Linked DNA regions of Homo sapiens. The protein of the gene in region 1 purifies or fractionates together with the protein of each later gene. This does not show direct contact. Each region holds a gene or a part of one and is shown on either strand. Other genes may lie near its edges.

Region 1 (5,092 bases):
GGTGTTTTTCAGCATGCTTAAAATATGGGCAAGGTTTATGACTGTTCGTCTGTACCAATGCCAAGGAGTGATCAGGGAAAGGAACCAAAGGAGACCTAGAGAATGAGAAGTTAATGAGGACTGTTCAAAACCGAGGGGGTGTCATGGGCCAAGAGCCAGAGAGACAGAGTATGAACAGCTGGAGCAGGACAGACCAGTGATGAGACTATGAGGATGAGGTAGGCAGGGTCCACACTGGCCCTTGTAAAAGCCATTTGATGATACTTTATCCTAAGAGTCCACTGAAGAGCTTTCATCAGAACAGGAATTCTTTCCTAAACCAGGCCTTCTAGCTCCCATAATAATGAGACCCCAGCGTCCTTCTTGGCTGGGGTCCACCCAGCCTCCCTCTCGGCAGTCCATCCTCCTCCTTGTGACCATCCCACTGCTCTCACCCAAGTGCCATCCATAGGCAACAAGAAGGGAGACAGATGAGTGAGTGCCCTTGCTGCCACCATGAGCCTGGCCAGCGGACAGCTTTGAGTCAGAAAGCAAAACCCTGTGTATGTGTGTTCAAAACACAGCCACATATACCTTTGAACCTGAGTCCATGTAAGTCCTCAAAGTCAAACAACTTGGTGTAATAAATGGTCCACTGCTTATTCTGAAAGCAAAATAAATACATAAAGCTATCTTCAACCGAATTACTCCAGCATGCAACAAGTCAAGGGTCACAGCTTTCCTGGCATTGCAGCCTTCCTCTCCCTATGAAAATACTCCCATTAACTTGATCTTCGTGGCCCTAATTTTGCTCCCTTTCAAAGAGACAAAAAGAAGGAAAAAAAACACTCAGTAAGTCAATAAAAATTATAAATTGTTTTTCTATTTGAGAGAAGCATGGGAGTCTCTTAAGCACAGGGCTCTAACATTCCTCCATCCCCTCATGTTGCATATATGAAAAGAACTGTGTTAACACAGCCACTGTGGAGGCCAAATTGGCAGGAACTATTAAAATTGAAAATGCATATTATATAATTATAATAATATAAGAGTATGTAGTAGTATATATAATATGATATGGTATAATGTGACCTATAGTATAGTTGTTAAATATATTTTAGAGCCAGGGTGAAGGGGCTTAAATACAGGCTGTATTCCTTGCTAGCAGTATAACCTTAAACGAGTTACCTCATTTTTCTAAGCCTCAGTTTCCTCAGCTGTAAAATGGAGATGACAATAGCACACCTCCCTCATAAAACTGAGAGAATTAAATGAGTTAATGTAAGTTAATGACTTAGAATAATGCCTGGCACATAGTAATCACTCTATACTTATTAGCTGTTTAAAATTATAACCTCATGAAATACATAAAAGAAATATATATATTATATATATAATATATATGTAAATATAATATATATATATTATATATAATATATATTATATATAATATATATTATATATTATATATTTATATATTATATATAAATTATATATTTATATATTATATATTTATATATATATATCCTCCAAACCATCAATCCACAGTAATAAAAGGACTTGGTTTGTCTCACTGTGGCCAGGGAGAAGTAAAGTTAATAGAGACAAGACATTTCAAGGTTCCAAGACTCTTCCCTTAAAGGTGGGGATGAGTTAGGGGTCCCCAGGGGGAGCTACCCAGTCTGCCAATGTGGTGGGAGGAAAGCCAGGGGGGCAGTCAGGAGACTGGGTCCCAGCTGGAGAAGGTGCTCCTCTGACAGTTTTATATATATATTAAGTAGAAAGATCTCTAGTACGCATTGTTGAATGGGAAACAAGCAGAATACTATATGTGGTATTATGTGGTATTCCATGATGTTTAATGTTCTACTATTCATGTTTCTAAGGGAAAAACTACTATAAATTTGCTATGGATACCTATGTATGTAAATGTATAGGAAGAAAAGGATTTGGAGAAGGGACTAGAGTTAGAAAAAGTAATCAGAAAGGATTTTACTCTTCTCCGATTTTAGATAGAGAGATAGATAGATAGATGATAAATGATAAATAGAAATGGATATATCATAGATATACAGAGAGATACATACATGGACATAGAATGTATTCATATACTTGTAGCTTTTAAAATATAGATAAAACAGGCCAAGATGGTACAAATTGTTATTCCCCTTGTATAAATAAGAAAACTAAAGCTCAAAGGTAGCCCATATGTGCCTAGGCACACACAGCCAACAAGCCCCAGAGGAAGGAGTGGAGCTCAGATCTGCCCTCCCCATTGCCTTTCCACCACTCCACCCTGCCTCTCAAGGCCACCCAGGAGTAGACTATGACAAAAGGTAGAAGAAGGGGCCTCCTTGTCCATACTGGCTGGAATGGTAAAAGCCAAGTGCGATGGAGAATCGTGTTGTTGTTTTTGTTTTTAATTAATGAACCTGTTGGAATGTGCCATTCAGCAGTGGAGCTGAATGGTTCCTGCTGTTCATGCAAAACAAACAAAAATCCCTCCACCCAAGCTACTTCTGTGGCCACTTTTCTAGCCTTATCTATCCAGGGACTGTGAAAGGGACACAGAACTGTCAGAGGGGCACCTTCTCCAGCTGGGACCCAGTCTCCTGACTCCCCCTGGCTTTCCTCCTACCACACTGGCAGACCGGGTACCTCCCACTGGGGAGCCCTAACTGATCCCACCTTTAAGGGAAGAGTCTTGAAGCCCTGAAATGTCTTGTCTCTATTAACCTTACTTCTCCTTGGGCCACAGTGAGACAAACCAAGTCCTTTTATTACTGTGGCTTGATGGTTTCAAGGGTCTTTTCCAGATCTAATAGCCAAAGAACATTAGAATTTTCCTCTATGATACACTAGAATAATAATAAGCTCTCCCTCCCTAAAGATGATGTTTAATTAAAACCTCTGGCCATTTTGGCTATCTTCATATTTTTAAAGAAAACCCAGATGTAGAAGAAAAGCATTCTTCAAATGTTAACCATCCATTCCATCTCCTGGTCACCTTAGAATGTCATGTGTCAATGAAAGTTGAAAGGTTTTTGAAGCATGGTATAACTGATAATACGTTTTAGCTTTATCATTTAGCAACTGGGTGGCCTTGGACAAGCACAGTCTCTTCAGCCTCAGTGTTTTCCATCTGAAAAATGGGTGCAATACCTACTCTTAAGGTTGCTGTGGGGGGTCGGGGGAGGGGGTGAAAGAGATGGCATTTGGGAAGTGCGTGCAACCAGGAGGGGCCTAAGACATGTCTCTTCCCTCCTCCAGCTGGATAGCAGCTCTCCTCCTTCCATGGTTCCAAGACATCCACAGCCTGGGTCCCCCAGACTTGCCCTACCAAGTGCTGGCGCCTCTCCAAAGTCTGATTCTTTCTATTTTCCTTAAGTTGCAAAGCCCAGTGTTGAGGTGTAATTGTGTGTAAGAGGGAGAGGGGATGGATCTGGTTTCTTTGAAAATGGCTTCTTTGCTAAAACGACAACCTCAGATCTGATACTGAAAGAATCTGCTGGCACTGGCCCCTGTCAGAACAATTTGGAGCTATCCAGGGGCCATCCTCTGGGGCTGGCAGCCGGCCCCCCAGCTGAGCCTCATGCTCAAATTCCCAACAGGCTCAGAGGCAGGCCCCGAACACACTTCATCCTACAGCCCCATTCCTCCCATGCAAAGGCGGCAAGAGAGAAGGAGAGAAGGGCTTGGCATTCTGAAGCAAAATTCTCTTTCTCTGCTGCAACCCCCCTCAGCCCTGCCAGCCACCTTTGCAGAAGCCACACACGCGCACACACACACACACGCACACACGCACATTTTCAGAAAGCCCTTGGCACAGCCCACCCCTTCCTGAGCTGGACAGAGCTGCCAGGGCAGATTTGCCCGGGCCGAGGCCGCCTTCTTCATCTCCAGCCCCCTCCCATTCCTCTTCTAGAGTCAAGGTTTTGTCAGGAGTTTCAGGGGCAATGACTGGCCAGGGAGGGGGACCACAGACATCCTGCCTGCTGCCAAGTCCCTTTCTTTCCCCCACAGTGTGTCTTATAAGCCGGCATGTAGTTTATTCTTCTCCTAAACACTTCCATAGGGTGCAGGGCCTGGAGTTGCCATAGAAACACCTTTTAACTCCTCCTCCCCCAGAATGCCATGCCAGGCCCTAGGACTTTGGGGAAAAAAGACAAAAAGAGACACCTGTGGATGAGCAGAGACAGGAGGAAAGGCCATCGGGCAGCCCCCCGGAGAGGACCAGGCCAGGCCTCCTGTGCCTTTTGCTAGGCCAACATGGCACCAAGCCATGAAGAGAAAACCACCATGATGGTTTTAAAACAGGAAGTTGATGGGCTGATGTGAACACCTTTAGGGGGCTACAAAGTTGACTGGTGGGGTTGTGTGGGTCCCAAGGAATGGGGAGCTCCTTCATATTTGTTTGAGGGCGAGAATAGACAGTTTCAACCCAGACTGGAAACCAGAAAGGCTCTGAGCAATGAAACTTGGGAGCCAAGTACTGGACGCCAGCAGGGTGCTGTGCAAGGCGAGGGAGGTCGGCAGGCAAGCAGCTCACACCCACACCTCCCATTTTAAAAGCATTAGCTCATCCCTGCCACTAGTGCAGCTCACCAAACCCAGGCAGAACAATTTGGGATCCGTGCCAGAGCATCGAAGATTTTTTGTTTCTTTTTTTCTTTTTGATTCCACAATCTCCTGGTCTTTGGCTACTTCCTGGTAACTTAGATTTTCTCTGAGAAATTTATGAAGAGGAGCGAGGGAGCTATTTCTTGTTTCAATCCAGAGAAATTGTAAGAAACTTTCTGCATTGCTCAGACCCACCGCAGGAAACCTAAGCAGTAAGCAGACGGGAAGGCCCCCATTGGAAGCAGGATCTACTCATGCTTGTTTTCACTTTTCCGTGGTCAATTTTTAGGGTAGAAACCCCAAAGCAAAGGGCAAGGGGGAAGAATGGGGACCTACTCCCACTACATACCAAAAAAACGCAAGTGAAGTCACCCAGCCCATTTTCCAGCAGAAAAGGACTTGGGCTGCACCCCTGCACACCCTGATTCCACCTGCCAGCCTCCTGGCCGCACGTGTGTGATCCTGCTGGGCAAAACCAGAACTCAGCTGCAGC
Region 2 (5,092 bases), on another chromosome or scaffold:
TCCACCTGCAGGGGGACAAACCGAACATGTTGTTGTTGCCCACAGACCACCTCTGAAGAAAGGAAATGGAAGGATAATTGCCACTATATGCCTTGATAGATAACTGATTTCCAGAAAAGCATTAGCAATGGTTGGTGTCTACTAATACATAGAGAACTGAACCAGATATGGGTTCTATTTTATTTCCAAATTAAGATGATCTTGAGTCAGCTATTCGGATTCTTTTTTGTTTCCCTATGTGTACATGGAATAGCCTAAGAAATTATCTTTCATGGTCTCTTTAGCTAAGTGAATGCTTATATTTGTCTGTCTTTATTGATAGCAGTGAAATAATAGCATTAAAAACCACATTTATTTACAGTGACCTTCAATTATGTGTTATGCCAATTTACTATTTATTGGTGAACTTCAGCGAAAATGGAGTCATTCAACAAAATATTCACTAAACATATACTCTGTGCATAATACACAGATACGTGACAAACATTTTCTAAACACCTTCTCAATCAGGCTATATCATCAAGTATTTTATCTCCCCCTCATCTTCCTCCATTAAAATGCTTCATGGTTTCGAAATAACTTCTGAAGCATGATAATAGTTCTGAAGGGTCATAGATTAATATTTAGAGACAAAAAAAGTGAAATTTCATCTTGAAAGTTCATGTTCATTGCTAAGACTTAAGGTATTTGTGTTTATCAAATAGTAATTCTTGCTATTCTAAATTGCTGTATTGTATTATGATTTTTTAAATGTTTTTCATATGTCCGTGAAAATCAGCTGGGCTAGCATAGAACCAAAAAGGGATGCAATATAAAAGAACTTAGGAAAAACTGGAGTGTCATATGCAGCCATGATGTGCACAATGACAAGTGACTATATGCAAAGTCAATAATTGTATAATTGTTTTGGTCTACTGGGGATACATGTGAAAATTTTGGGTGGGTGATAAGCTTAACAATAAGAAAAGATCTGCCAGCAAGAATGGCAGAATGTTGAAGAATCCAGAGATGTTGCAGTCCTCCTTCTTTTTTTTTTTTTTTTCAAGCTTTAAAGTAGACTTGGTCTTAAGCTTCTGTTCTTCTCACCAAACTCACCTTATAGAGTGCATCTACTTTTAGAGTAAATCCATCCACACCTGGCATGTTACTGACCACATGGAAATCAGGCAACTCAGAGGCAAAGTGAGCCTCAAAAGGCACATCATGGAAGTACTTATCAGTTACCTCTGGCTGATTGCGGTCCTAGGATTTCAGAAAAAAGAAATGCAAGATTTAGAAAGATGGTTCCACTATATTGGTAGGTGGCAGTGACTGGGAGGAGAAAAGTACTCATCACTCCTGGCTTTAGGTTGAGTTGAGAGAGTATGTGCTGTGAAGCCCTCTCCATAAGTCAGTGGCTGCCTGATATGGTTTGGCTGTGTCCCCACCAAATCTTATCTTGAATTACAGTTCCCATAATCCCCATGTGTCATGGGAGGGACCCAATAGGAAGTAATTGAATCACGGTGACAGTTACCTCTATGATGTTCTTGTGATAGTGAGTGGGTTCTCATGAGATCTGATTTTTTTTTTTTTTTTTTTTAGATGGAGTCTTGCTCTGTCGCCCAGGCTGGAGTGCAGTGGCGCGATCTCAGCTCACTGCTGGCTCCACCTCCTGGGTTCATGCCATTCTCCTGCCTCAGCCTCCGGAGTAGCTGGGACTACAGGAGCCTGCCACCACACCAGGCTAATTTTTTTGTATTTTTAGTAAAGACAGAGTTTCACTGTGTTAGCTAGGATGGTCTCAATCTCCTGACCTCGTGATCCGCCCACCTCGGCCTCCCAAAGTGCTGGGATTACAGGCTTGAGCCACCGCGCCCGGACCTCTGATGGTTTTTTAAGAGGCTTTTTCCCCTCTGCTCGGCACTTCTTGCTGCCCCTATGTGAAGAAGGATGTATTTGCTTCCCCTTCTGCTATGATTGTAAGAGGCCTCCCCAGCCATGCTGAACTGTAAGTCAATGAAACCTCTTTCCTTTATAAATTACCCAGTTACAGGCATGTCATTAGCAACATGAGAACAGACTAATACACTAACTCTGGGAACCCACTGTCCTTTTCAAAAGGACATGTGGTGGCTTTTGTGATCTCAAAATGCAAAAAGTGGGATATTCTAGCCCAATACTTCTCAAGTTATTTGGTCTCAGGACCCTTTACACACTTACAAATCAAGGACCCCAGAGAGTTTTTGTTTATGTGACTTATATCTATCGACATTTACTCGGTTAAAAATTAAACCTGAAAAAATTTTAAGTGTTTACTTATTAATTCATTTTAAACTGACAATAAGAAACTCATTACATGTTAACTTAAGTAAGATATTTTTTAGTGAAAATACCTAAATTCATTCCCTTCCTCAATAAAGAGAGCTGGCAATGTTTTACATTTTTGTAATCTCAGGGAAAAAACTGGATTCTCATAACTGCTTCTGAATTCCATCAGTTGTGATATGCTGTTTTGTCTAAAGTGTATGAAGAAAATCTGGCCTCATAAAGCTATGTAGTTAATAGCTTTTTCAAACAATTATGGCTTTTTTTTTTCTTTTTTTTTTTTGAGATAGGGTCTTGCTCTGTTGCCCAGGCTGGAGTGCAGTGGTGCAATCTTGGCTCACTGCATCCTTGACCTCCCAGTCTCAAGTGATTTTCTCACCTCAGCCTCCCAAGTAGCTGTGACTACAAGTGCATGCCACCAAGCCCAGCTAATTTTCAAATATTTTTTTGTAGATATGGGGTCTCCTTATGTTTCTCAGGCTTGTCTCAAACTCCTAAGCTTAAGTGATTCTCCCACCTCAGTGTCCCAAAATGTTGGGATTACAGGCATGAGCCACCACGCCCTGCCTCTTTTTTGATACTAAATCAAAACTTGGTGAGTGGTTATTTTTTAAAGATTCATTACAATGTGGAATCTGAAATTTTATTGATAAACTTTTTAAACTCTCTAAACTCATGAGGGAATAAGTATGAAAAAAAGAGTCATCATCATATTATTTTGAAAGTAATTTTGACTCTGTAGACTCCCTGAAAGAGTATGGGGACACTCCAGGTCTCTGAACCATACTCTGAGAAACATTGGCCGAGAGTTTCCTTTTCTGAGGACATCAATGGAAGTTTGTCTTGTTACTCATCGTAACTACCACCTATGTACTAGTATTTAGCTGATCTGAAAGAAACAACAACACAAACATATATAGAGAAGAAAATATCAAGAGTGAGCTCTATCTACTTTAGGCAGAAGTCATAGCTGAGGAAATCTGCTCAAGTGTCTGCTCTTTAACACTAATAGTGAGAACTTAGCATACCAACAGCAGGAATCTGTGTTTTAGGTGTTTGTTTGGCTGAATGCATCCATACTGGGGCCCTTCATTGTAGATTGTCCCCGTGGGATCAAAGAAAGGCACATAACCATCCTTGCCCGTACAAAGATAGACTTTCTCCAGCTGGAGTTTGTAAGCAGAATTAAGATTTTGTTCTGGATTCCAAAGTACTCGGCCATAAAGGATTTGACCTGAAAAGATTGAAAGGTATTAATTAGGTCAGACTTTAAGATGAAAGAAAAACAAATGTCAAGGGTTGAAAGGGGTTAAACATGCTCCCTTAAGAGTGAAAAGCACTTTTCTATGAAGAGCTCCATGATTCCATGTGCCCCTAAAATACTCATTCATTTATTGCTTCGTTTTTATTCTTATTTTCTTTTTTTCTCTGAGTTTTCTTGCTAGGGAACATTTATGCCTTCTTTTTTTCAATAAGCATTAATTAAGCATTTAAGGGAAGCAAAGTATTCTGTTATGCACAGGGGATACCAAGGTGTGTGAGATGCAGTTGAGAGGATGGAAACAAACTCACAGTGATTGACTAAAATAGGCTCATATTTATCAAACTCATACTATTTTCCAGGTACTGTACCAAGTCCTCTCATGTAATAACTCATGGAGTGCTCACAATTTTGCAGATGAGAAACCTGAGGCACTGAGTGGGGCTAAGTGATTTGCTGAAGGTCACAAAGCAAGCAAACGGTGAGGGTGGGATTCCAAGTCAAGGTACTATGCTCTCAAACCAAACCACCACAATACTTTATTAATCACCCAAATGCTATACTGTTACATTCCACAATAGAGGAAGGTATGTCATGTTAAGAGAGCATGAAACCAGGTACAGAAATCTGCCTAGGGAATGGTATGGAAGGTTTCAAGAGACATGATATTTGAGCAGTATCCTGAAACACAAGTAGGCATTTGTCAGACAGTGCATTTGGGGTGGGAGTGAGAGGCAGGAGAGAACACTCTAGGCAAAAAAAAAAAAAAAAAAAAATCCATGTACAAAATACTGAATGCTTCAAGGATGTAAGCCCTGGTGTAGGCCGTTTCCTATGTGTCGGCTATGGCACCAAGCTCTTTACATGCAACTAACTTACTTAATCCTCCCAAGAGCCCAAAAGATAGCTTCAATTATTATTCCCATTTTTAAGTAACTTATCCAAGGTTCCACAGCAATGATGCAGTGGGAGGAGGATTTTGGAATTAGCACAAATCTGGCTAATTCCAAATGCTCATCCCAAACATTTACTATGTGGTGCTAAGTAAGTCAGTGTGACAAGAGTGGAGGGTGTGTAGAAGCTCTGGCAGGAGAGGCTCCTGGGGACATAGACAAACCGTGCTGAGGAGGCTGGACTTGAATATATAAGTAATAAGAAACACTGGAGGGTTTTAAGCGGAAAGGTAGTAACACACTTGGGCCTTAGAAACATGGCAAATGGGTCAAGGACAAAGAGACTTAAGTCACAGAGACCTGGTAGGGGCTATTTTAATCCTCTAGTGAGAGATAGGCACCTAAAATATAGCTGTGAGGCAAGAGGATGAACTCAAGAAATGTCTAGGAGTCAGACTCCACTCATCTTAATGATAGATGGGACGTAGGATGTAGGAAGGGGAAGTTGAGGATAACCCTGAGATTTTTGGTTGGGGCACATAGAGGATGGTGACGCAGTCAGCAGGGTAGCAGATGTGGGAGGAGCATGCTTGGAAGGAGACAAGTCCAGACTTGGGCATCTCTAGGTGTC

What was found. The genes of interacting proteins can lie anywhere in the genome.
Region 2: the proteins of TIMP3 (region 1) and FRAS1 purify together in Homo sapiens (affinity purification with mass spectrometry; one large-scale study listed by BioGRID and IntAct). This does not show direct contact.

Annotation. Positions count from the first base shown.
Region 1 is NC_000022.11:32,803,707-32,808,798, reverse strand, and holds part of TIMP3 (metalloproteinase inhibitor 3 precursor), read right to left. Parts: intron 1-5,092.
Region 2 is NC_000004.12:78,535,444-78,540,535, reverse strand, and holds part of FRAS1 (extracellular matrix organizing protein FRAS1 isoform 1 precursor), read right to left. Parts: intron 3,542-5,092; coding exon 3,336-3,541; intron 1,243-3,335; coding exon 1,096-1,242; intron 6-1,095; coding exon 1-5. UniProt on the Homo sapiens protein: Involved in extracellular matrix organization. Required for the regulation of epidermal-basement membrane adhesion responsible for proper organogenesis during embryonic development. Involved in brain organization and function.